Linked DNA regions of Homo sapiens. The protein of the gene in region 1 purifies or fractionates together with the protein of each later gene. This does not show direct contact. Each region holds a gene or a part of one and is shown in the gene's direction. Other genes may lie near its edges.

Region 1 (16,005 bases):
CCACCCAGGCAGCCTTTGCCCTGCCAAGGGAGCCCCCGCCCTGCCTCCTGGAGACGCTGACTTCCAGGAGTGGGGAATGCTGCCGGCGCAGGGGCTGCTGCTCCTGGATAAGAGGCAAGCCCTGTAAGGAGAGAGGCCCTGAGTCCCCTGAGTCCAGCCACCACCTCTATGGCCGCTCTGAAAGCCTAAGGGGACTGAGGGTGGACATGAAAGGAGGTTGCTCTAGTTTCTTTGGCCTGTGGACCAACCTGAGGAGGGACAGCCACCCACTGCCACAGGCCAGTCCCCAGGTGGCTGAGAGCTCCCTTGGAGATGGGGGCTTCCTGGAGGGCCTGCCAGGCTGCCCAGCAGCTGCACACCATGGGCTGCCCCGTGTGTTCAGTAGGTTCCTGACTTCCCCTAGCAGGGACATCAGGGTCCCAGGAGACGGTTTGCAGGAAGGGCCAACGGAGGGCAGGTGGAGGATGCGGTGGACGGATGGGAGGGAGATGGGGCAGTGGAGCAGTCTGCCCAGGTGGCTGGAGGCCAGAGAAAGGCCAGAAGGGAAGTCAAGAGCACAGGAAGAGTGAAGAGCAGAGAGGCAGGCCAGGCAGAGAGGGCGGAGGGAAGGGGGGAGCTGGGCGGGGCAGGGGACTTCAGGGGCTTGGCTAGGCCCACAGGAGGCGACAGGGCACAGGACCAGAAGGCAGTGATGGAGGGTAGCAGGGAAGGGGGAAGAGGCAGGAAGGGGCAGGGAAAGGAGTGGGCTGGAAGCAGCCGGGTGAAAGCAGACCCATTTTCCCTTCATCGTTGCCAAAGATCAGCGTGAGAGCACGATCCTGGGGCTCTGAAGTCAGAGTTCAGTCCGGCTTCTGTTCCCTTAGGATTTGTCCTTGTGACCTCACATGTAGAGAATTAGAGAGAGCGAGCGCATGCAAGAGAGAGAGAGAGAGAGCAGCAGTCCTGCCTGTAGCACAGCTACAGGGATGTGCAGACTGAGGCCCTGATGGAGGCAGTCCCAGGCCGAGCCTGGGCTAGAACAGGGTGTGCCTTGTCACAGGAAGCGAGGAGGTGGTGCAAGAGTGGGAGAGAGGCCTGGTTTAGGATGACGGCCAGACACGAAGCAAGAGATTGGGGCTCATGCAGGCACAGCTGGGCAGCTGGAAGAGGCAGGACCTGGCCAGTTTCGAGCCCCACGTGGAGACTGTCCTTGTAATGAACATGTCCTTCTGTTCGGAGCTTTATGTACCTTTATCATATAAACATTCACAGCCATGCTGTCTTCATTTAGAAGAGGTGTAGATCCAACTATTTTAATGAACACTGAAGACTTTCCTTCCATAGTAGCTTCCCCTTCATGTAACGTTATGTGCATTATGTAACAGAATGCAATGTACCTTTACAGAAATCTCTGTAATTTCAAAATGATATAATGCACAAATTAAGACTTCTAGTCACCTTAGATGATAGAAACAATATCCATCCAGCCGGTGGTAATTTTCTGCCTTCAGCACCAATTATGTAGGGAATGAGTTTTTAATCTTGTGAATTCCTCTAACATGTTTCCTGCCCTCTGGATGCCTCCCACAAACAGCTGCAACCACCTGACGGGCAGGCGCCCAGAGAAGGTCGGCGGGCTGGTGGCGTGGAGGTGTTTCTCTAAGCAGCAGAGTACCTTTGTCACTTGGTTGGGTGCAGACCGCGGCTGGTTTGTAGGACAAGGAGCTGGAGCTTCACGCCTCAGAACCGAGATTTTTTTCTGTGAAGTTGGAGGCCAGGCTGTCTGGGGATGGTGAGGAGCTGGAGGTGAGGCCTTGAGGTGTGGAGTGGCCTCGACGGGACCGGGCTGGGGTGGGGCTGCCCTACCACCAGGGAAGGGGTGAGGGGTGCTGGTGCCCTGAGACTGCCATTTGGATGGTTCCCTTTGGCTCCAGGAGCATTGTCCATGGGCTAAAGGGGCTGGGGTGGAGTGGGCAAGCAGGCGAATGGACTGGGCCAGGGGTGGCCCGGGCAGTGGAGTGGGGCACCACTCAGGGTGTGGAAGGAAGGGGAGCAGAGGGGCCCCGCATGCTCTCATGGGGATGGGGCTAATGGGCAGGGGTGAGAGCAGCAGGAGGTCGCACCGTGAGGCCAGACTGTGAAGTGGGGCCCTCGTGGGTGCAGCGGTCGGGGCCTGTGGCAGCAGCAGGTGCACTGTGTTCCTGCTCAGCGTCTTAACAAGTGGGCTTATCAGGCGAGTTGCCAAAACCTCTCAATGCCTCCATTTCCACCCTGTAAAGTGGGAGTGCCTGTGGGTCCTGCCTCATGGGGTTGGTGAGGGTTCAGCAAGGTGGGACAGGTAGAAATCGGCCTCTCTAGGTGCCATCTCCTAGGCCCAATCCCAGCTCTGCATCAAGCTCGTGGTGCACATTTGGGCACAGGGCTCCAGCCCTCTGTGCTTCAATTTCTTCCTCTGTCAACAAGGCTGTTGATCGTTTGCACCTCCCAGGGTGTTTGGAGAATGAACAGACTTAATTTGTAAAGTGTACTGCCCTCGGCGTGGTCCTCAGGACAGGCAGGGTCAGTGTTGGAGGGAGCTGTCACCATTGGCAATGACGTCTCCTTGAAGAGTCGGGAGGACTTGGGGTGGAGATGAAGACTGAGCCAGGTACTGGAGTGTGGTGTGCCCTGGAAGATATTTGATGGCATTAAAGAGCAGAGGTGGTAGCTCTGCATGTGGGGTAAGGCTCTCAGGACAAAGCGTTTTGCAGGAGAATAGGGTGTGAGTGCTGGCACAGTTCCCGGGGGAGTGGCGGGTAGGTAGGGCAGGTGGGGACCTCCCCATAGCCTTCACCTGTCAGCCCCTCAGTATTGGAGAAGATTTTTTTACCTTCCACCCCAATATATACTTTTTAAAAATCAGAATTAAATAAAAGACTTTCAGGAAGGAAATGAATGTCCTAGTTACTCAAACTACAGAAGGGTGAAGATAGGTTCATTATTAAAGTGCTACAGGATAATTCATGGAGACGAACGACACAATTAACAATTTCCATGCCGCAAAACAAAGATAAAACTGAGCCAGGCGCAGTGGCTTAAGCCTGTAATTCCAACATTTTGGGAGGCTGAGGTGGGTGGATTGCTTGAGCTCAGGACTTGGAGACCAGCCTGGGAAACATGGCAAAACCTCTCAATGCCTTTGTATTTTGTACCAAAAGTACAAAAATTAGCCAGGCGTGGTGGCACGTGTCTGCAGTCCTGGGAAGTTGAGAGGCTGAGGTGGGAGGATCGCTTTAGCCCAGGAAACGAAGGTTGCAGTGAGCTGAGATCATGCCACTGCACCCCAGCCTAAGTGAGACTCTGTCTAAAAAAAAAAAAAAGAAAGAAAGAAAAGAAAAACAAAACAAAAAACCCAAAGATAAAAATGTCTGTGTGTAGGGGAGGTGGGAAGGGGTGAAGTAGGGAGAAAAGACTCAACACGTAAGAAGAATAGGAATTCAATAGCTAAAGTGGAAAACAGAATATTAGGCTCCTGATGGGCATGTGGGCAAAGGAAATAGTACACTTTATGCAACAGGAAACATAAAAGAAAATAAGTATTTCAAAAGGGTCCACCATCTGCTCACACTCCTATCCCCGTGTCCCTGAGAAATAAACAAGTGTAGCTCAGTAGCTGTGACCTGGTGGCCTGGACAGGGAGCTGCTGGGAGGCCAGAGGGGGTACTCAGAGGTGAGCAGAATCCCCTCATTCCTTGACTCCTGGCCCCAAGGCCCAGGTGGGAGGCGGGGGGGTCCTGGCTGCCCGGCGGGAGTGGAGGGAATGCTGGGAAGCTGTTGCCAGGGTTTAGCCCAGGACTCTGCTCCCTTGAGCGCCAAACCTCAGGAGGGCCTCAGGAGGACCTGGATGAGACAGAGCCAGAGGTGTTCACTTGGAAGCATTTGTTTAATGTTCACAAGACATTCAGTGGCTCCATGTGCCAGGGGAGCCATGGGACAGGGTGGGCTTCCAGAATTCTCTCCTCCCCTGCATTTGGCAGCAGGGGAAACTTGGGACGTACAGAGACCTGTGCTCTCTGTAAACTTCGTAGTAAAGGGCCTCCTCTGGATGCCGTGGGCTTTCGGTGATAAGACAACCATTGCATTTGAAGACCACCTTTGTCCAACTTCTGCACATTCTGGGGGCTCCAAGCCCCATCAGGGCCATCAACAGCCATGGGCAGGATGACTGCAGGGAGAAGCTTGGTGGCTCTAAAAGAATTGGCTGGATCATGACAAGAACAGAAGGCACAGATATCTGAGCATCTGCAACCTTCTCCTGTAACCTTGATGTTACATTTCCAGTGAGTGACAGAGGGGCACGTGGGGTGACATGGGAGGGGAAGGCTGCATTCTGGACAGTTGCTGCCCCCTTGCGTGTTTTACTCCCTTCTGCCTTGACATTAAGCATCACTGACCTCAGCCACCATGGGCCCACTTTCAAGGAGACATCTTCAATTGCTAAGGGGGATTATCAGGGCCCCGAGTTGGGGGGCTTGGGGGCACGCACCTTCCTGTCTTTGTGAGCACCTAGGGGGCAGGGTGTCAGTCCTCAGGGACTTGGCAAAGGCTCCAGGAACGGGCTTCGTGTGGTATAGCACCCAGCTGACCGTGCAGGGGAGTCATCCGGGCTCAATGTTTAAGTGGGGCTTGGTGGCCGGATGCAGTGGTTCACACCAGTAATCCCAGCACTTTGGGAGGCCGAGGTGGGGGATCGCTTGAGTCCAGGAGTCCGAGACCAGCCTGGGCAACATGGCAAAACCCCATCTCTATTTTTACAAAAAATAAAATAAAATAAAGAAGTGGGGCTTGGGAACAGAAGTGTTCCCGGCAGAATGGGAGGGGAGAGGCCAGATGGGGAGCCATAGGATGGGGCCTGGGGCAAGTCCCTGCCTAGCCCAGCTCTTGGAGCTCAACCCTTTGAGTCTGTCTCCAGGCCGCACCTGGAGGGTTGGAGCAGAGGGTGGGGGCAGGTGCTGCTCATCTTCCTCTCTTTGCCTCTTCTTCCTGAGTTCCCCTGCCTTCCTCTCTCTGTTGGGGCTTCCTCTGATTTTTAGGACCCCTTTTCCTTGGATCATGAGGGTCTCATTATCAATGTTCCTCCTTTTTTTTTCTTTTCCTTCAAATAGACCCAGCAGGGGAGACAAAGGCAGGCATAAATCAACGAGGAATGGGGGCCTCAGTCACTGCTTGAGTACCAGGCACTTCCTGGGTACACTTACCCCTGTTACCATGCCGACTCCTAAAACAACGTTTTCTGAGACAGGTACTGTCATCTGTCTTCACCACCACTGCCTGGTCCCTAGGAGATGATCCACAAACATTTTTTGATTGAATGGATGTGTAACTCCAATTTGCGGCTGGGGAAATGGGCTCAGAGAGGTTAGGCAACCAGCCCAAGCTGACAGAGCTGCTTTGTGGGGAGTGGCGGCCAGAGACCTGCTGAGGCTATCTTCAGAGTCCGGCTGCCTCAGATGCCCTGGATCCTTCTTTCAGACACTCTGACGCCCCCACTCCTGCCCTCATTCCTTCTTGTTGCTGCTGGTGCCCTCATCCCAACCCAACCCCTGCTGCCCCAGTGGGTCTGTCACATGCTGCCCCTGTGCCAAGCGTGTGTTCCCTGGGACCCCGGGGCGGCCCGTGCCCCTGGTTCCTGCCTGGCCAGCTTCCAGCCTCGGCTCCTGCCATTCCCCCCTTACCCTGGTGCAGAGGGTGCCCGGGCCCTCACCAACCCCGTGCCCCTCCTGCCTGTGCCTGCACCTGGGCTGCCCTCCTCCAGCATCCTCCTCCCTCCCCGTGTCTCTTAGGGTTCAGCTCTTGCCCCTGCCCCTGTTCCCTGACCAGCTCTCTGGGGCAGGCTTGGGAGCACTTCTTGCACAGCTCTGGGCCAAGTGGTCACCCTGCAAACCCCCTGGTGGGCAGGTTTCCCCCCTTGGAGGGAAAGGATGCCCCACGAGGGCAGGGCCAGGCCTCTGGCTGCTGAAGGAGCGAATTTCACCAGCGTCAGGGGAGGATGTGGTGAGCGCCCAGCTATCCTGGACCCGCTCTTTGATAAACACAGTCAGATTCACTTGTTCCTTGCCCTAGAAGAAGCTGGTTCCTGAAGCTCCGAAGCTGCTCCACTGGTGAAGTCGAAGGTGTGTGCCCCCAAACCCCCCAACTCGGGGCTCCCAGCCTGGAAGACAGGCAGGGACCTGCCCAGGCTCCCAAAACCTCCAAGTGATTCTGGATGGTGAGAGGGTGGGCAGGACTAGGGGGAGAAGTTTCAGGAGGCTTAAGGGAAATTTTCTGAGAAAGGTCTTCCTATTTATGACTCCCCAGGCCTGTGGCAAGGGGAGGCGAAAAGCTCGAGGGACAGGCCTGAGCCTTAGGACGGGGCCTTGGGCGAGTCCCTGCCTAGCCTTGCTCTTAGGAGCTCAAACCTTTGAGTCTCTCTGGAGACGTATCTTGGCAAGGGATCCCCCATATACCTTGGATATCCCCCAAGGTATCCAAGGGATACCCACAGGAGAGGGAGGTGGACAATGCCTTCTACTGCAGAGCAGCTCGTGTGGTCTCTAGCTTCTGTGTCAAAAGAGGGAGAAAATAAGAGCTCAGGTGTACACGGGCGGGCACAGAAACTCTGGAAGAAACTTAACAGTGGTGCCCTGGGGGGTAGGTGAGAGCTGGATTTAGGAGTGGGACAGATATTTTCCTATATGTGTTTACATATGTATTTGAATCATGTGCATGTTTTCAAAAATTTAAAAATTTAAAAATTTTAATATTGCAACAGCAATAAAGTAGAAATATTCATTTCTTAAAAGAAGGTAGCCAGGGCCGGGAGCGGTGGCTCACATCTGTAATCCTAACACTTTGGGAGGCCGAGGTGGGTGAATCACGAGGTCGGGAGTTCAAGACCAGCCTGACCAACATGGTGAAACCTTGTCTCTACTAAAAATACGAAAAAAGTTAGTCGGGCCTGGTGGCACAAGCCTGTAATCCCAGCTACTCAGGAGGCTGAGGCAGGAGAATCACTTGAACCCGGGAAGTGGAGGTTGCAGTGAGCCAAGATAGTGCCACTGCACTGCAGCCTGGGCAACAGAGCGAGACTCTGTATCAAAAAAAAAAAAAAAAAAAAAAAAAGAAGGTAGCCAGAATGGGAGTAGACAAGGCTCCCTTTGAGAAGGGGCTGAGCAGAGACACTGCTCCCTGCAGGCCACTCAGTGTGGATGCCTTCCTGGGGCCTCACATTGCAGGCTCTGGGTATGGAGGTGGGTGCCAGACACCGGTGTGTTTCCTCCCTGCTACTGTCCCAGCAGGCTCCTGGCCTCCTCCCGCACCCAGGGTGCGGGCCTGGCTGCCCCCCCTTGCCCAGTAGCCAGCCTTTGGCTTAGATTGGGCTGGTGGCCCAGTAGGGGGGCCTCGCTGGGGGCAGGACTGCCCTGTGCCCTGTCTTGGCACCCAGGCCAGCTTGGGGCTCCACGGCCTGGAGCAGGCAGTGGACTTGGCACTGCCCATCGCACAAGCCCAGGTGAGAGCTTAAAAGTTGTCATGGTTCCATCAACCTCTTCACCAGACAGTGGGAAGACCCAGCTCCAGAGGGCCAGGTGGTTCCCCTGCAGTGACTTGCAAGGTGTTATTTACAGAGGGGACCCATGTGTTGGATGAATCATCCAAAAAACCCAGGAGTAGTTTCTATTCCTGTAGACACCTGAAAGTCCCAGCACGCATAGCTTTTAAAAATTGCTTGTGTTTGGTCCTCCGACAGGGCCTCCCAGCACCTCCAGGGCATGAGAGCTGCATCTGCCGGGGTAGTTTCAGCCCAGACTTTCCTGATGGGCTGGAATCTATGAGGGCTCCCAGCTAAGAGCCACCCAGGCCCACGGGTGAGTCTCAGCCCTCCCAGCCCTGAAGGTGGGAGATGCCAGGGAAATCTCTGCTTGCAGGGCCCTAGGAAGCCACAGGCCCAAGGCTGCCCCAAATCTCTGTGCAGGCCTGGGACAGAGAAGCCGAGGCTGGGGAACCTGTGGGGCCCCACTGACCATTCTTGCAGACACACATGCAGTGGCTGAGGTCTCCTCCGACGCTAGGCACGCAAGTCCTAACCTGCAAGTACTAAATAGCACCACCTTCCTTTCCTTTCTGTGGGCAGCAGTTTCAAATCCTAAACCCCCAAAGTGCTGGAAGCCACGACGGCCCTTGGCAGGTGCTGAGAATGGCTGCCCCTGTGTGGTGCCCCTGTTAGGGTGTCTGGGGTGCGTAGGAGGCTTCCTCCTCCAGAGGCTTCCCAGGGCTTGACACATGCAGTGTGATTTTTGGCTTTTTGGTTTTTTGTTTTGTTTTTTGGAGCTGCGGGAGGGGGGCGTGCAGATCTTCCAAGAGGGCGGGAGAGTGTAGACCCTCCTCCTGGAAACTGCTCCCCATGTCCACACTCTAGTTCCACACAGCCTCTCTGTAGACCCCAGAGCAAGAGCCCCTAAGCCAGACAGGGTGACACTGGAGCGGCTCAAAGAGCATCTGGTCCCACCCCTTTATTTCACTCACAAGGAAGTCGAGACCCAGAGAGGGGAAGTGACTCTCCCCAGAACAGGCTGACAGCCAGGCCTGGAGGAGAAATGACATCTCTCAGCCCTCTCAGCTGCACCGGACCACCAACAGGTAACAGCCTCTGGGCCATTTAGAGAAACTAAGGCACGGAGCCTCCAACCTGACCTTGCTCTTGTGGACTGCAGGTAACTCTCCTAAGATCAGTGGGGCTTGTGTGGGCCTGGGCTTTGTGCACACCTGTCCCAACTCAGCGAGCAGTCCCAGGTGTCAGGGCAGCGGCAGCCTCCAGGCAGCCTCCGTGACAGCAGCAGCGGCAGGCAGACCTGGTTTGTCCCCGATTACGAGTGACATTTTTCTACGAACCCTCAACTTCCTCCTGATCTGACTCAGGGTTGCAGCATCATGTCGGGTCGGGAAACCTCCCCATAGGCAGCCTGGGAGCCTTCCCGGGGCATGTAGCTCACGTGCCACCGCCCTCCACCAAGCCCGCCGCCCATTCCCCAGAATCTTGTTGGGAAACCACCAAGCGCCCGAGATGACACACTCTCAGGGATCATCCTGCAGCCCTGAGCAAGTGCTTACTGGGGACCAGAAGGAGCCTGGGAGCCCAGGCTCACCCACTCACCAGCTGCGTAATTTCTCTAGCCTCCGTTTACCTCTCTGGGGCATGAGGCAATACACGGTTTCTTCCTCACGGGGCGCTCAAGGGCAGTAAATGATGGAGAGGAAAGCCCTGGTTGCTATCCTACATTATAGCTGCATTGTTCTCTAACCCTAGCCAAGTGTCTCTTGGAGAGGCTGGGCGGGAAGACACAGCAGCACTTAGAACCCTGAACATTCTAGATTCTTCCCTGAGAGTGAGAACACAAAGTCAGGACATGTCTGGCTGGCCTGGCTTCACCTGGGCTTTGTGCTGCCCGAGGCAGTGGGGATGAGAGGACAGGGCAGGGCAAAGTGCCGCCCACAGCTCTGTGGAAGGCAAGGTTTGCCTTTGGTTCTGAGCGGCTGTCCCAGCTGTAAAGGGAGCACCAGTCACTGTGGAGCTGCAGCAGACCTGGCCATTTGTTCCGTCATTTCTTCACCCCCTCTTTCATGCAATAAGACCTTCCCAACGACAAACTGTATGTGAGGCTCGGTGATAAAGGTGAAAGGGACATGGTCCTGGTCCTGGGGTTGCTGGAGGACAGCAGGGACACGCTCCCCCTGGGATACACAGAGGACTTTTCAAGGCACCCACTCAGGACTGCACTGGGAAAACCACATCAGATGATGTGGGTGAACCTGGGAAGTGGGCATTTCAAGGAAGAGGTGGGATTTTTAGCAGTGGAGGAGAGAGTCCAAGGAGAAAGAGGAGCATGAGCATGCAAAGAAGTGAGGAGGGGGCTTGGCAACTCCTGGATCCCAGATGCTCTTGCTTGTGATGCTGATGGGGGCCAGGGTGAGCGAGGAGGAGAGACTCAGAACATGAGTTCCAGCTGGTCCCTCACGGCCTTTTTGACCTTGGGTAGAATCTTTAACATCTCTAAGCCTTACTGTCCTTATCTGTAAAATGGGCATAATTAGGGCAATCTCCTAGGAGTGTCCTGAGTTCCCATCGTAGATCACTGAGCACACTGCTGGCCACCTTTCACGTCCCCAAGCCGGCCCCTCCCCTCTCCCAGCCCCACTCCAACCCCCCAGCCCAAGCTCCAGCAACATTCAGGCATTGGGGAGATTGTGGTCATGTGCTCTGTCCCCTCTGTGTCCTGTTCCTTCTTCTATCGTGGCCCCCAGAAGCCCAGCTCAGGCACAGGCGGATGACTTTATTCACACTATGGTGTTACTGGTGGATACGCTGTGTATTCTAACTGCGGCATTTTTGGGGGAGTATTCCAGGGCTCCTCAAATCCATCCCTGCGGCTGTGCCAATGCTGCTTTTTTAGGCTCTGGCCCTGCCATCTCTGAGGTGGCTCACGCTGCAATGCTCTGTGCAGATAACAGCCTGGCAGCTGCAGGAAGGGCCACCTTCTCAGTTGCAACCCTCCTTAGGGTTGTGATCTTCTTGTTGCTTGTGTTCTCTGGAAAGTCCAGGCCACAGAGGGAAGAAAGGTAGGTCTGGTGTGGAGCCACATAGCTGGGTTTCGAGGTCTCAGCTGTGCAGGCAAAGCCACAGGGCTGCCGCAAGTGGGACACTGGATCCTTGAGGGTGTGGGCGGATGAGGGTACCATGGACCACTGGCAGTTGCGGGAATCCCAGCTGCAGAATGTGTAGAGTCAGCAATTAAGAACCAGCACAGGCCGGGTGCTCGGGCTCACGCCTGTAATCCCAGCAGTTTGGGAGGCAGAGGCAAGAGGATTGCTCGATCCCAGAAATTTGAGGCCAGCCTGGGCAACACAGTAAGACCTTGTCTCTACAAAAAATAAAAAATTAGGCCAGGAGCGATGGCTCACACCCGTAATCCCAGCACTTTGGGAGGCAGGTGGATCACCTGAGGTCGGGAGTTCGAGACCAGCCTGACCAACATAGAGAAACGCTGTATCTACGAAAAATACAAAATTAGCCGGGCGTGGTGGCACATGCCTGTAATCCCATCTACTCAGGAGCCTGAGGCAGGAGAATTGCTTGAACCTGGGAGGCAGAGGTTGCAGTGAGCCGAGATCACACCATTGCACCCCAGCCTGGGCAACAAGAGTGAAACTCCATCTCAAAAATAAATAAATAAATAAAAATAAATTTTAAAATCAAAAAATAAAAAATTAATTGGGTATGGTGATGCATGCCTGTAGTCCCAGCTACTCGGAGGGCTGAGGTGGGAGGATTGCTTGAGCCTGGGAAGTTGAGGTTGCAGTGAACCTCAATTGTGCCACTGCACTCCAGCCTGGGTGACAAAGCAAGATGCTAACTTAAACAAACAAACAAATCAGCACATTGAGGCCAGGGCTCCGGGCTCGGGGCTGAGCAGGGCCTTGAGGATGGAAGAAATGAGACGGAAACCCCCAAGCAGAGGGAGCCAGGAGGAGAAGCAAGGCCTCTGTGCTCCACCCCAGTCCCTTTCCACACGTCACATACTTTCTCTCCTTTTCACCAAACATTGGAAAACAGCCTTATATTGAAAGGAGATTCTACTTCAGGGTTAAAAATCAACAAACAAAAACACCCTTCAGTAAGACACGGCTGTGTGCATGAATTCCCTCTACAGCACCCTGGATAAGCACATAGCCCTGCCTTTGCTTGCATACCTCTGGTGACAGAGAGCCCTCCACATGACGAGGCTGCTTTGCTTTGTCTACTCTCAGACACTCTGGCTGCGAGATAGGTTTGCTTTCTGCAGCACCTGGAACCCATTCCTTTTCTGACCCTGTGAAGTCTTATGGTGGAACACGTCACGATCACTGGAGGATGGATGACCTTGTGCCTTTCCCTCTAGGGATTAGGAGCATCTCTAGGCCTTTCTGCATCTTCTCCCATGCTGTGGTTCCCTAGCCCCTCCGAGTTCAGCCCCTGCAGACAGACAGCCTCGGGTCCTAGGGTGATCAGAGCTGTGCATTGGCCATGGTCACTCCCATTCCACTTCCAGGATCTTTGAGTGTAGCCTTGGCTCACCTCGTTTCTCCCTTTCATGTTTAAAAGAACACTTAGGAATTCCCACTTTCCTTAAAGTGGTGACTGCGTTTGTGTTTTGTGTATAAATATTGTTTCTTTACAATATTTCAGCAATGTACGTCTGATTTTGTCTCTGACTCACACGTGAAGAGCCTGTGTAAAAGAATGCATAGAAATGCCTGTATTTTTAATATGGCACTGCAGCTAAGTGGTCAGGACCAACAAACAGCTATTTTCTTTGTGGTCCGAGAATGAGGAGTGTAAAATTGCCATTGCCTGTGCTCGGGAATGGGGTAAATTTTGTGAAAGACACTTCTATTCTTCTAAAGAGAGCATAGACCCTTGATTTATGATGTACTTCTCCCTGATCTGCTAGTCTACCTTATTAGTTGGGTTGTTCAGAGCTCTAATTTCTGTCTATTTTGATCATGGGTATTCCACAGGAGGGGCACTAAGGGCTCCAGCTACATTATATTTCCATTTTTTAAAATTTCTTTTGCATTTCCTGCATGGTCCCATTATGTACTTGTTTGCTGTGCTAATTGGAACAGAAATTGAGTGTTTTAAGTTTTCATTATTTATTGTAACTTTCACTCTTGTGGAGTCTCCATGTTACTTTCTCAATTCTTTTTACTAAAAAAAAAATTACTTTGTCCTATTCCCTTCCTTTCTAGCACAAAATGTGCCTGATAAACCAAAGATTATGCTATCATTTTACTCTGTGTCTTTTCATTTTCTTAGTGTTTTTCCTTGACAAAAGATGATTGAATTTTGTTTTTTTTAAATTGATGGTTGGTTTTAATAGATTAATATAGGGAGTATTAACAATTGTTTATAAATTTGCATAAACCTCTGTGAGGTTGCCCCTCTGTTTTCTATATTGTGATATTATAGTTTTTTCATTTTCAGTTTCTACTGTGAATCTTCTCTTCCTTTTGTCCCGTTAAGATAGACAAGGTGATTTAACCTAAATATTCAATTTGGAAAATATTTAAGTTCTTAACTTCTTGATGCTATTGATAGCTTGCCAAGCTTTGGGGGAATTATATTTTAAATCTCTTTTCTTACCTTCACCTACTCTTCACTATGAAGCTGGCATTTTGTCTCTTTTATGTCGTCTTTTACTGCTTATGTAATACACATTTTTATAATGTGATGGCTGACCTGTGAACAGAGGAAACTTGTTTATTTTTCAATTTTTTTTTAAAAAAATCATGAATCAGGTTCTTGTTGCTGTTCTCCCATCATTTGGGTGGGATTGCTGTCTCACTTGACACTCCCACATCTCTCTCTCACTTCATGCTTCGTTCCCAGCCCCATCTTGAAATGCTCATCTCTGACCCTGAAAGGTCATGCCTCATCAGCTGAGCTTTGGTGAATTCAATGCATAACTTTTAATTTTGTGTAAACCTTGCGCCCTGCCATGCCTCAAACACAAACCCAGACCACAAGTTGTTTCTCTGATACAGAAGGAAAAAATTGAAAGCTATCCTTACTGGTCTCCTTTTTCCCCACCAAGCATTATATATATATATTTTTTTAATCTCAGGTTTTCATATTATCATTAACTAATTAGAAAAGCACACACACACACACACACACAAAAGACAGAGATAAAGATAAAAGATTTTAAAAATCACCCACCTTCCAACTGCTAGAATGCAACCACTGGTTGGGATGTAGAAATCTTTTTTTAGGTTTTTTTTTTTTCCCCTCTATGCGTGGGTTTTTGTAATTTTAATCACAGTTGAAATCATTCTGAATGTCTAATTCTATAGTTTGTGGGGTTTTTACTCAACATAGTCAGCATAAACATAACAGTCAGACAGAAAAATTTTCCATTGAGTAAATTTACCGTAGTGAACTTAACCTCTTGTTGGCATTTACATGTGTGTATGTATTTTTTACTATTAGAAAAAAAGTAATGTGGTAATACAGTGAGGCAAAGAAGAATAAGAAGAAAAAATGCCAAGGTGGACATATTTTTGTACACAATTTTTCTTCTTTCATATAATTTACTTAAGGTGAATTCTCAGAATCACTGGATTAAAGACATACAATTTTCATGGCTTGTAATAGAAATTATCAAATCCCAAAAGTGGTGTGCTAATTTGTACACTTACTAGCATATTGGTGACTGGTTTCACAGAACCCTTGCCAAATTCTTTGTTAAATTTGATAAGCAAAAATGTTATCTCTTTGTAAATCCTCTTCTGGGAACTGCCTATGTCATTGGCTTGTTCTTCTATTGTTGTTCTTGATGTTATTCATTTTAATATTCTCTTCTCAGAGAAAGAACGTCATTTGTCTAACATTGATTGTGTTTTGTTTCTTCGAGTACATTATTTGATGTTAAGACTTTTTAGCAAAAAGAATTTTTTTTGTGCAGTCAAACCTGTCCTGTTTATTTTCTGTTTCTTTGATTTTCAGTTATGCTAAGTTGACAAAGAGCTTTTCCCTTTAGTGATTTTATAAGTTGTTTATTAAATTTTCATCTAGTTTTTCTATGATTTGATTGTTTTGAAATGTAATTCCTTGATGAATTTGGAATTTCTTTTGAGATACCGTGTAAGATGAGACTCTAAGTTGGTTTTTACTCCCAAATTGTTAACTGACAGTCTTAACATAATTCTTAACATAATTTCTTAACTAAGCCTTCCCTTTGTATTATTGATTTTTGTGGAATGCCTCATTTATTCTTGCTTCTGTTAAATGTGTTAGTGCATAGTCTGAGATTTTTGGGTTAGTAAATGTCTGATTTCAACAAGAATGTCCCTACTATTTTACCATTAAATACAAAGTTGTCATTGGTGTGAGCAATTTACTCTTTGTAAGAAGTACTTTCCTGTTCCATTAGTTAAATAACTCAAAAAACTATTTATACAATTGGATGACTTTTTATTTTTGCTCTAATGATGTGATACAAAACATTAATTGATTTCCTAACACTGAAACTATCTTACATTTCTATAGTGAATCTGATTCATCATGATGATTTATAATGTTAATGTACTGAATTCCACCTGGTAATATTTTAATTAGGATGTTTGCATATATATTCATAATTGTATTTGAGCAAGTCTGTCTCTTTTGTGCTGAGTTTCGCTATTTGGATAAGTTAGTTTAATAGAAATTCATTAATACTATGTTCTGAAATACTTTATAGGGCACGGGGATTATCTGTTGCTTGAAAATTTGAAATAAGCTAGAGCCTATTTTAAGAGTAATTCTTTGATAATATTCTGTTTCTTTTATGGTTATTGGTCTAGTCAATAATTCTATTTCTTCTTGTGTCAAACCTTGTATAGATTGTGGTAAATTATTTTTTGCCCCCAAATCAACAACTACATCAAGGTTTTTCAACAGATCAACACACACGTAACAATGCAGTTTCTTGCTATTTTTGCTCTCCTCTCTAACTCAGCTTAATGTCTTCTTTCTTATTTCTAGTTATGACCATTTGAGCCCTTTCTTCTTGATCATAGTTGTTAGAGATATAGGTATTGCTTCGTTTATTGCTTCTGTTCTGAAGGAACCACCTATTAAATGTGTTGATTCTGATATTTTCTCTTTTCTAATTCCTTTATTTCCACTTTTATCTTTATACTTTTTTCCTGATTTCCCTAAGACATTTTTTCCCTAAATGCTCAAGTTAAGTGCTTAATTCATTTATTTAATGTCCTTAAAGAAAATTAAAGCAGTTAGGGCAATGTGTTTATCTCTGAGAATAGTTTTGGCTGTATCCTGTGAATTTTTTTTTTTTTAAAACAACCAATCCAAAAAGTTCTTGCTATTCTTCACATGTATTTAGTTTTGTAGTTCTCACTTTATTTTTAAATAGTCATTATTATTTTTGTTATTATTTTGAGACAGAATTTATATAAACAGGGTCTTACTTT
Region 2 (8,176 bases), on another chromosome or scaffold:
TGGTTGGACGTTACACTTCCTGGCCAAAGGGCCTTTGTTGCTGCCCTGAGGGAGCAGGAGTTCAGCTCATGGAGCGGAGGGTTTGGAGAGAGGGCCTCCGGGTCTGCTGGTGGGTTAATGTTCCATCAGTGCAGCCTGGGGAGCAGGGCTGGGCTCAGCGGCTCTCAGCCGGTGCTCAGTCTCTGTTGGGATGGAGAGTGAAGGGCGGAGCAGAAGCCCTTCCCGCTGGGACACGGCTTCTCCAGGGGACACTGCTTCTCCAGGGGACATGGCTTCTCCAGGGGACACGGCTTCTCCAGGGGACATGGCTTCTCCAGGGGACACTGTTTCTCCAGGGGACACTGTTTCTCCAGGGGATGGCAGCTTCTCCAGGGGACACGGCTTCTCCAGGGGAGGGCAGCTTCTCCAGGGGAGGGCGGCTCCTGGCTTTTTGACTGTGTAAGAAACATTTTACATCAGGATTTAGACGCATGGAACATGTGTGGGAATTGGAAGTTTTGCAGAATAAGCATTTGCTGTGTGTGACGTGCTTCATTAGCTATTCTGCTATAATTTTTTCTTTTTTCTTTTTAATTTTTCTTTCAATTTTTAGAGAAAGGGTGTTGCGCTGTCACCCAGGCTGGAGTGCAGTGCTGCGATCACCACTCACTGCGGCCTCAACCTTCAGGGCTCAAGCTGAGGAGCTAGGACTACTATGGGCGTGCGCCGCCGTGCTGGTTAATTTTTAACAGAGTCTCGCTGTGTTGCCAAGGCTGGTGTCAAACCCCTGGCCTCAAGTGATCCCCACCCACCTCTCCTTCCAAGAGCGTTCTCTTTTTTTTTTTTTTGAGACAGTCTCACTCTATCCCCCAGGCTGGAGTGCAGCGGCGCGATCTCGGCTCACTGCAACCACCATCTCCCAGGTTCAAGTGATTGTCCCGCCTCAGCCTCCCGAGTAGCTGGGATTACAGGCACCCGCCGTCTTGCCTGGCTAATTTTTGTATTTTAGTAGGGATGGGGTTTCACCGTGTTGGCCAGACTGCCCACTTCAGCCTCCCAAAGTGCTAGGATTACAGGTGTGAGCCACCGGGCCCGGCCATCCAACAGTGTTCTGTTCGTGTTTAAAATGCTGCTTGTGGCCAGGCATGGTGGCTCACGCCTGTAACCCCAGCACTTTGGGAGGCCGAGGCAGGTGGATCACTTGAAGCCAGGAGTTCGAGACCAGCCTAGCCAACTTTGCGAAACCCCGTCTCTACTAAAAATACAAAACTCAGGCATGATGGCACACACTTGTAATCCCAGCTACTTGGGGACCCCCCCCCCCCACAGACAAACATGCCGCACCTGTGGCAGTAACTAGGCTTGAGCCCGACTGTCTTTCCTCCCCTGGTTCTGGCAGGAGAGGCGGGAGATTTTTGAGCAGCACCTGAAGAGCCTGAAGCTGACCCAGTCCAGCACCTTTTACTCCCAGCGTCTGGCAGAGCTGACACCAGGATTCAGTGGTACGTTCTCAACCCGCAGCCTGGGCAGCGTCACGTCCTGAGGGCAGGTGGTGTCACCTGCGCAAACAGCATCGAGGCCTCCTCTGTGGGGTGGGCGCTGCTCCTTCTCTGGGGGCCTCTGCTCAGTACAAGCCTGGGAGGGAGCTGATGTGTATGTGGGGCAGCAGGAGGTCCAGACGGCACCCGCACTCCGTCCTCCGCCCCGGGGTGGAAAAGCAGACGGTGGTTCCCGGTCTGTGTTGTTTCCAGAGATAGTGGAGTTATGTTGCTTCCACACAGTGACCAGTCATGCCGGCGTTTCCCGTCAGACCCAGAGTCAGACCACGCAGTCCCGGCAAAGCCGCCTCCCTCTGACCCTCACGGTCTCTGTCAAGTTGTAGAAATAGAAATCATACCTCAAGATGCTTTTCCTGCTGTGTGGTTCACATTTTAAAAGTTAATGTCAACAAACCTCCCTTTTATTATGAGATGAATTTGCCCTTTGATTATTCGTTAGGGTCTTTCACTAGAATTTTGTGGTTACTAGAGAGCCTTTAATTTCTTTGCCATCAATGCTCATGAGCTGTTAGGTGGAATCAGCCACAAGATGGGGTGTGGAACTAACTGCCCTTGGGAGGAGAGACGGGCGTCAGGGCGGATGGAGCCTGGCGGTTCTGTGTCTCGTCTGTGGAATGGCCTCAGTGGAACACGGTGCAAGTGCCTGCCGCTCTCCCCACCCCTGCTCCTGGCGCCGGCGCCTGCCGCTCTCCCCAGCTCTGCTCCTGGCGCCAGCTCCCCGTGCCTCTCTCCCAGACGCTCTCACCAGCACTCTTGGTTCTTGGTCTCTTTTCCCTCTTTGTTCTTCCTTTTATTTATTTACTTATTTATTTTGAGACAGAGTCCTACTCTGTCGCCCAGACTGGAGTGCAGTGGCGTGATCTTGGCTCCCCGCAGCCTCCGCCTCCTGGGTTCAACCGATTTTCCTGCCTCAGCCTCCTGAGTAGCTGGGATTACAGGCGCTCACCACCACGCCCGGCTAATTTTTGTATTTTTAGTAGCAATAGGGTTTCACCCTGTTGGCCAGGCTGGTCTCAAACTCCTGACCTCAGGTGATCTGCCCACCTCAGCCTCCCAAAGTGCTGGGATTACAGGGGTGAGCCACCATGCCCGGCCATCTTTGTTCTCCCTTGAGGGCCCCTTCCTCCTCTTAAGCCCTGATAGCAGAAACCCACCCACCCACACCGTGGCTGTTTGTGTTGACAGGGGCTGACATCGCCAACATCTGCAATGAGGCTGCGCTGCACGCGGCGCGGGAGGGACACACTTCCGTGCACACTCTCAACTTCGAGTACGCCGTGGAGCGCGTCCTCGCAGGTACAGGGGGCGCGCCCTGGGTGAAGGCCCTCCTTAGCAGGGCTTGAACCCCAGAAATACCCAGGCAGGTATTGAGAGGTGAGGTGGATGGAACCATCACACAGGAAGGAACACACGTTGCGTTTCAGTTCTGCGTAACTCATGTCTTTATGATACCTTGTACTTTTCCTTAGTTTAAAATATCACAGATTTACCTAAGAGTAGACGCTCGTCCAACAGAAATAAAAAATGCCTTGCCAAAGAAAGTGAAAAAATAAAAATAAAAAATGCCCCCCAAAAATAAAAATAATAAAAACTAAAAATGTCTTGCCAGCCTGGGTGTGGTGGGCTCAGCCTAGCCCCAGCCTCATGGGGGCTGAGCTCCAGCCGCTGACTGTGGGCCGGAGGGCTGCTGCCGCCCGTGGCTGTGGAGGGACAGCCGTGCTTTCAGCGCAGCAGGGGCTCTGCGGAGAGGTGTGGATCTGCAGCACCACCTCTGGTGAAACTCATGGTCCCGACCGTCAGTAGGAACGGGAGATGAGTTTTGGTGACGGGTGACCGGTGGGCTGACCGCCTCTGACTGCCGTTCCGTGGCTGCTCAGTGTGGGGTCTGCGACGTCTGTGAGGAGAGAGGACCAAACTGGGAATCGGAGCTGCTGGAGGTTTCCATAGCTATGATGGCAACACCCAGACGTGATCAGTCATCTCATGGAATGGAGTTCAGACCCGCACTGTCAGTGTGAGACAGGTTGAACGTTTGAAAAGGGAAGTGGTTCTTGCCCCAGGTGTTTGAGGAGCACGAGCCTCCTTTGCGAGCTATCCCTGCGAGAACCGAGTTCCTCACCCTCAATTCGAGTGAATTCCTAGCACGAACACGCCTCTTGCAGGTCCCCAGGGCTTCAGCTTGGGAAAGCAGTGGGTTCCTGCAGAGGAGTGGGGCAGCTGCTGTGCCAGACACTGCAAAACACACCTGGCTTCTCTCCGACAGCCCTGCGGGTCGAGAGGACTGGCGCTGCCTGTGTCTTACTGAAATTTATTTTCGTGTAACCATTTACTTTTATGTGGAAATCGAAAAGCTTTTGATAATAGTAGCAAAGCAGGAAGGACTGAGTGGGAACCACAAGCCAGTTGAAAGAAAATACATGACGTACTTGAGTGCTCAGGACCACGAGCTGATTCAAGTTGTACAGAATGGACACTTACAGATGTGTGGAAAATCTGAGACAGGAAATGAAGCCTCACCAGTAAGCTGAACAGGGGAGATTTAATGCAAACATTTGTCCCTGGCTGGGCACTGTGGCTCATGCCTGTAATCCCAGCACTTTGGGGGCTGAGGCAGGAGGGTTGCTTGAGGCCAGGAGTTTGAGACCAGCCTGGGCAATACAGCAAGACCCCATCTCTTAAAAGAAAAGAATAAAGAGTATTAGCCAGGCATGGTGGTGGAGCACACCTCTGGTCTCAGCTACTCAGGAGGCTGCAGCAGGAGGATTGCTTGAACCTGGGAGGTTGAAGCAACAGTGAGCCGTGATCGCACCACTGCCCTCCAGCCTGGGCAACAGAGTGAGACCCTGTCACTGACAGAAAAAAAGCCTTGTCCCTGAGGCAAAAAGCTTCTGAAGGGGTGAGTAGAAGCCATAAGGATCCAGAAAGTGATGGGGATGGGAGCTGCGCCTCCAGGTCTGAGGGGAGAGGGAAAGTAAGCAGGAGGCCCGTAACTCAGAGGAGGCCTCTGCCCATCCTGCCAGGGAGAAAGTCAAAAGCTGCTGTTCTGTGACCCTTGCCCCGACCCTGTGGCACCCCCCCAACCATGGGGCAGGAGGAGACACTCCTCAGAGGGTTGCACTTGTTCCTAAAAGCAGCAGGAGCTATTTCGATGATTGCAACATTTATAAAAGAAGAAATCACGACCTCCTTCAACAGCCCTTTGACCTGAAGAGTGTCGTTTTGAGTTGGGGTGTCCAGAGCCGCAGCTGCAGCTCCAAGAGGCAGATGTGCAGAGAGAGGCTTGCTTTGACCACACGGGGCAGGAGCAGGGCCCAGCCAGGGAGAGGCCGGGGTCTCAGCTCACCCCCCCGTCATTCTTTTTTGTTTGTTTTTTGAGACGGAGTCTTGCTCTGTCGCCCAGCCTGGAGTGCAGTGGCATGATCTTGCCCTACTGTAACCTCCGTCTCTCAGGTTCAAGTGATTCTCTTGCCTCAGCCTCCCAAGTAGCTGGGACTGCAGGCGCCCGCCATCACACCTAGCTAATTTTTCTATTTTTAGTAGGGACGGGGTTTCACCATATTGGTCGGGCTGGTCTCGAACTCCTGTCCTCAGGTCATCCGCCCGCCTTGGCCTCCCACAGCGCTGGGATTACAGGCGTGAGCCACCGCGCCCAACTCATACCCCGGCATTCTTTCAGGGACTGCCAAAAAGAGCAAGATCCTGTCCAAGGAAGAACAGAAAGTGGTTGCGTTTCATGAGTCGGGCCACGCCTTGGTGGGCTGGATGCTGGAGCACACGGAGGCCGTGATGAAGGTGGGTCTTGGCAGGTGCCGGCTCCACGGGCCTTGGCCAAAGGTGGGTGGGGAGTCCCGCCTGTGTCTGTAGCTGACTGGGGAGTCCCGCCTGTGTCTGTAGCTGACTGGGGAGTCCCGCCTGTGTCTGTAGGTCATGTGAGAGGAAAGCCTGCCACTGTCATGATCCATGGAGCAGGGTGGGTGGCGACTGATGGGCGGGAACTCGGACGTGGGAGGCAGGAGTGGGCTGTGTCACATCGGAGCATGGTGCTGCTACTGGGGTGACTCGTGGAAGGTTACACCATGCAATGGGGTTTCGCTGCCTTTGCCTGTCCACCCCAAATGACTCCTAACATTGGAAAGAAGTGAGTTGAGTGTACATTTAAAAAATACTATTCTAGGCTGGGCATGGTGGATCACCTGAGGTCAGGAGTTCAAGACCAGCCTGGCCAACAGGGCAAAACTGTCTCTACTTCAAACAAACAAACAAAAAACTACTCTTGTAGGCAGCTGTGAACTCGATGGACATTTATTCTTACCAAATGGTGATGTTACAGCTTCTCTAAGACGTGGCTCCACCACCGGGAGTCCGAGTGCTGCCAAGAGGAGGTCTCTACTCGGAACGCAGGTGCCGTCTTTACAGTGGAGCCCCAGGAAGCCGTGCAGGTTTGAGGCTCACCTGAGAAGGCGGCAGTGCTGTGTTCCTACCTCAGGGTTCACTGCAAACAATGCATACGCTGTAGCAGTTGCCAGCTTGGTTTGTCAGTGCTGGTCTCCGTGATTGGTTCTCAGGTGTGAGTTGTAGCAAAGTTGCGTGTTAATCAGAGAGCGTCCTGCCCATCCCAGGGTCTCAGCAGGGCTGAGGCAGCGTTTGGGGACCAGATCCGTGCTGCTCCTTGGCGATGTGCACCACAGTCATGGGACCAGAGCTAGGCCCACTGTGGGGCGAGTGGACACTCAGCTGGGGGTCCCATTTATGGGACACTAAAAAACTCAGCAGTGAACACGACGTTTTAACACGGTATGTCAAGAAATCAAAATTAATGCAGGGACTTTGGGAGGCCAAGGCGGGCAGATCACTTGAGGTCAGGAGTTCGAGACCAGCCTGGCCAACCTGGTGAAACCCCATCTCTACCAAAAATACAAAAGAATTAGCTGGGCGTGGTGGTGCGTACCTGTAACCCTAGCCACTTGAGAGGTAGAGGCACAAGAATCGCTTAAACCCGGGAGGCAGAGTCTGCAGTGAGCCAAGACTGTGCCACTGTACTCCAGCCTGGGTGACAGAGCAAGACTGTCTCTCAAAGGGAAAAAAAAAGAATTTTTACTGTATTTGATGGGCAAAAGTCAGATAGTCACAATGAAAAAGTGAGTCTCTTTCCCAAGGCTCAGTGTCCTGCCAGGAAAAGGTTGTGAATTGGCTGTTATGGTTTTGGTCATTAATGCAATCATCACTGCAGCCGTTATTTAGAGCTTCTTTTTGTTTTGAGACAGGGTCTCTCTCTCTGTTGCCCAGACCGGAGTCCAGTGGTGCGATCACAGCTCACTGCAGCCTCGACCTTCCGGGCTCACACGATCCTCCTACCTCAGCCTCCTGCATAGCTGGGACTACAGGCATGCCCCACTGGTGGCTCGAGTGATTTTTATATTTTTTGTAGCGAAGGGGTCTCGTTATGTTGCCCAGGCTAGTCTCGAACTCCTGGGCTCATGCAATCTGCCCACCTCTAACTCCCAAAGTACCGAGATCACAGATGTGAGCGACCCCGCCCAGCCTAGTTTTAGATTTTAAATTAAGCGTCCTCGGGATTCTCAGAGCACTTGGATGTGGCCATCTCGCCGCCACAATTCTCAGAAGCAGCAGCTGGGCCAGCCCCTGCCCCGTCTCCGTCCGTCTCCCACTCAGCGGTTCCGTGTTGTCGAGTTAGCTCGTTGCCCCGCGCCACCTCCTTGCACACCTGATGTGGGGCTGTGGGGGAGCAGCAGAGGTGAGGACAGCCTCTGCTGCCTCAGCATCGTGGGGTTCTCATTGCTCTGAACCCTCAGTAGCTGTCGCTGGTGTGAGGGGTCAGCGCAGCGGCCATCGGGGGTGAAACTTGTCCTTCGCCTCTCAGCTGTCTTCTACGGGCCTTGTCTTCTTGACTCCCTGCCTGTCTAGTCATGTATGAGAAGACACTTCCCGGCAGTGTGTGAACAGGCACCTGTGGTGGGAACGCTGCTGTCTCTGGGCTGGCCATCTAGAGTGTTAGGATCCCCTGTTGTTGTAGAGGATGCTGCACATTTGCCTTCCTGCTTTGAGACGCTTTAATGACGGAGACCTCTTAGTCCCACACCTTCCTCCTCAAAGCCCACGCATCCTGCCTACTGACCTGGGTCATCTTGACCTTGTGCCAGGTCTCCATAACCCCTCGGACAAACGCCGCCCTGGGCTTTGCTCAGATGCTCCCCAGAGACCAGCACCTCTTCACCAAGGAGCAGCTGTTTGAGCGGATGTGCATGGCCCTGGGAGGACGGGCCTCGGAAGCACTGTCCTTCAACGAGGTCACTTCTGGTGAGGAGCAGCGGCGCGGGCCCTGGAGGTTTCAGAGCGCTTTTCCCTGCATGACTCCTTCTGTTCCAGTGCATGCCATGGGGTGAATCTGGTGTAGACGTAGCTTTGAATTTATTAAGTATTTTGTAAAAGATAAGTTGTGGTCATAAGAGAGTTGGAGCTAAGCAAGACTTCTTAGATAATTTAATTGGACAAAAACTTAACCTATATGCCAACTCTAGACACATTTAATTGGTTAATTGTTGGTAATGGCTACAGGAAACGGAATAAAATTGAAGCGGCTTCATTGTTCTGAAGCCATTACTGCACTGGGATATCCA

What was found.
Region 2: the proteins of GPR55 (region 1) and SPG7 purify together in Homo sapiens (affinity purification with mass spectrometry; 2 studies listed by BioGRID and IntAct, with this or other methods). This does not show direct contact.

The regions. Positions count from the first base shown.
Region 1 is NC_000002.12:230,917,797-230,933,801, reverse strand, and holds the start of GPR55 (G-protein coupled receptor 55), read left to right. Parts: upstream 1-8,559; 5' UTR 8,560-8,634; exon of another isoform or gene 8,635-8,708; intron 8,709-16,005. UniProt on the Homo sapiens protein: G-protein coupled receptor that binds to several ligands including 2-arachidonoyl lysophosphatidylinositol or lysophosphatidylglucoside with high affinity, leading to rapid and transient activation of numerous intracellular signaling pathways.
Region 2 is NC_000016.10:89,545,280-89,553,455, forward strand, and holds part of SPG7 (mitochondrial inner membrane m-AAA protease component paraplegin isoform 1 precursor), read left to right. Parts: intron 1-592; coding exon of another isoform or gene 593-679; exon of another isoform or gene 680-897; intron 898-1,378; coding exon 1,379-1,481; intron 1,482-2,723; coding exon 2,724-2,834; intron 2,835-3,415; coding exon of another isoform or gene 3,416-3,438; exon of another isoform or gene 3,439-3,503; intron 3,504-5,214; coding exon 5,215-5,330; intron 5,331-7,699; coding exon 7,700-7,856; intron 7,857-8,176. UniProt on the Homo sapiens protein: Catalytic component of the m-AAA protease, a protease that plays a key role in proteostasis of inner mitochondrial membrane proteins, and which is essential for axonal and neuron development.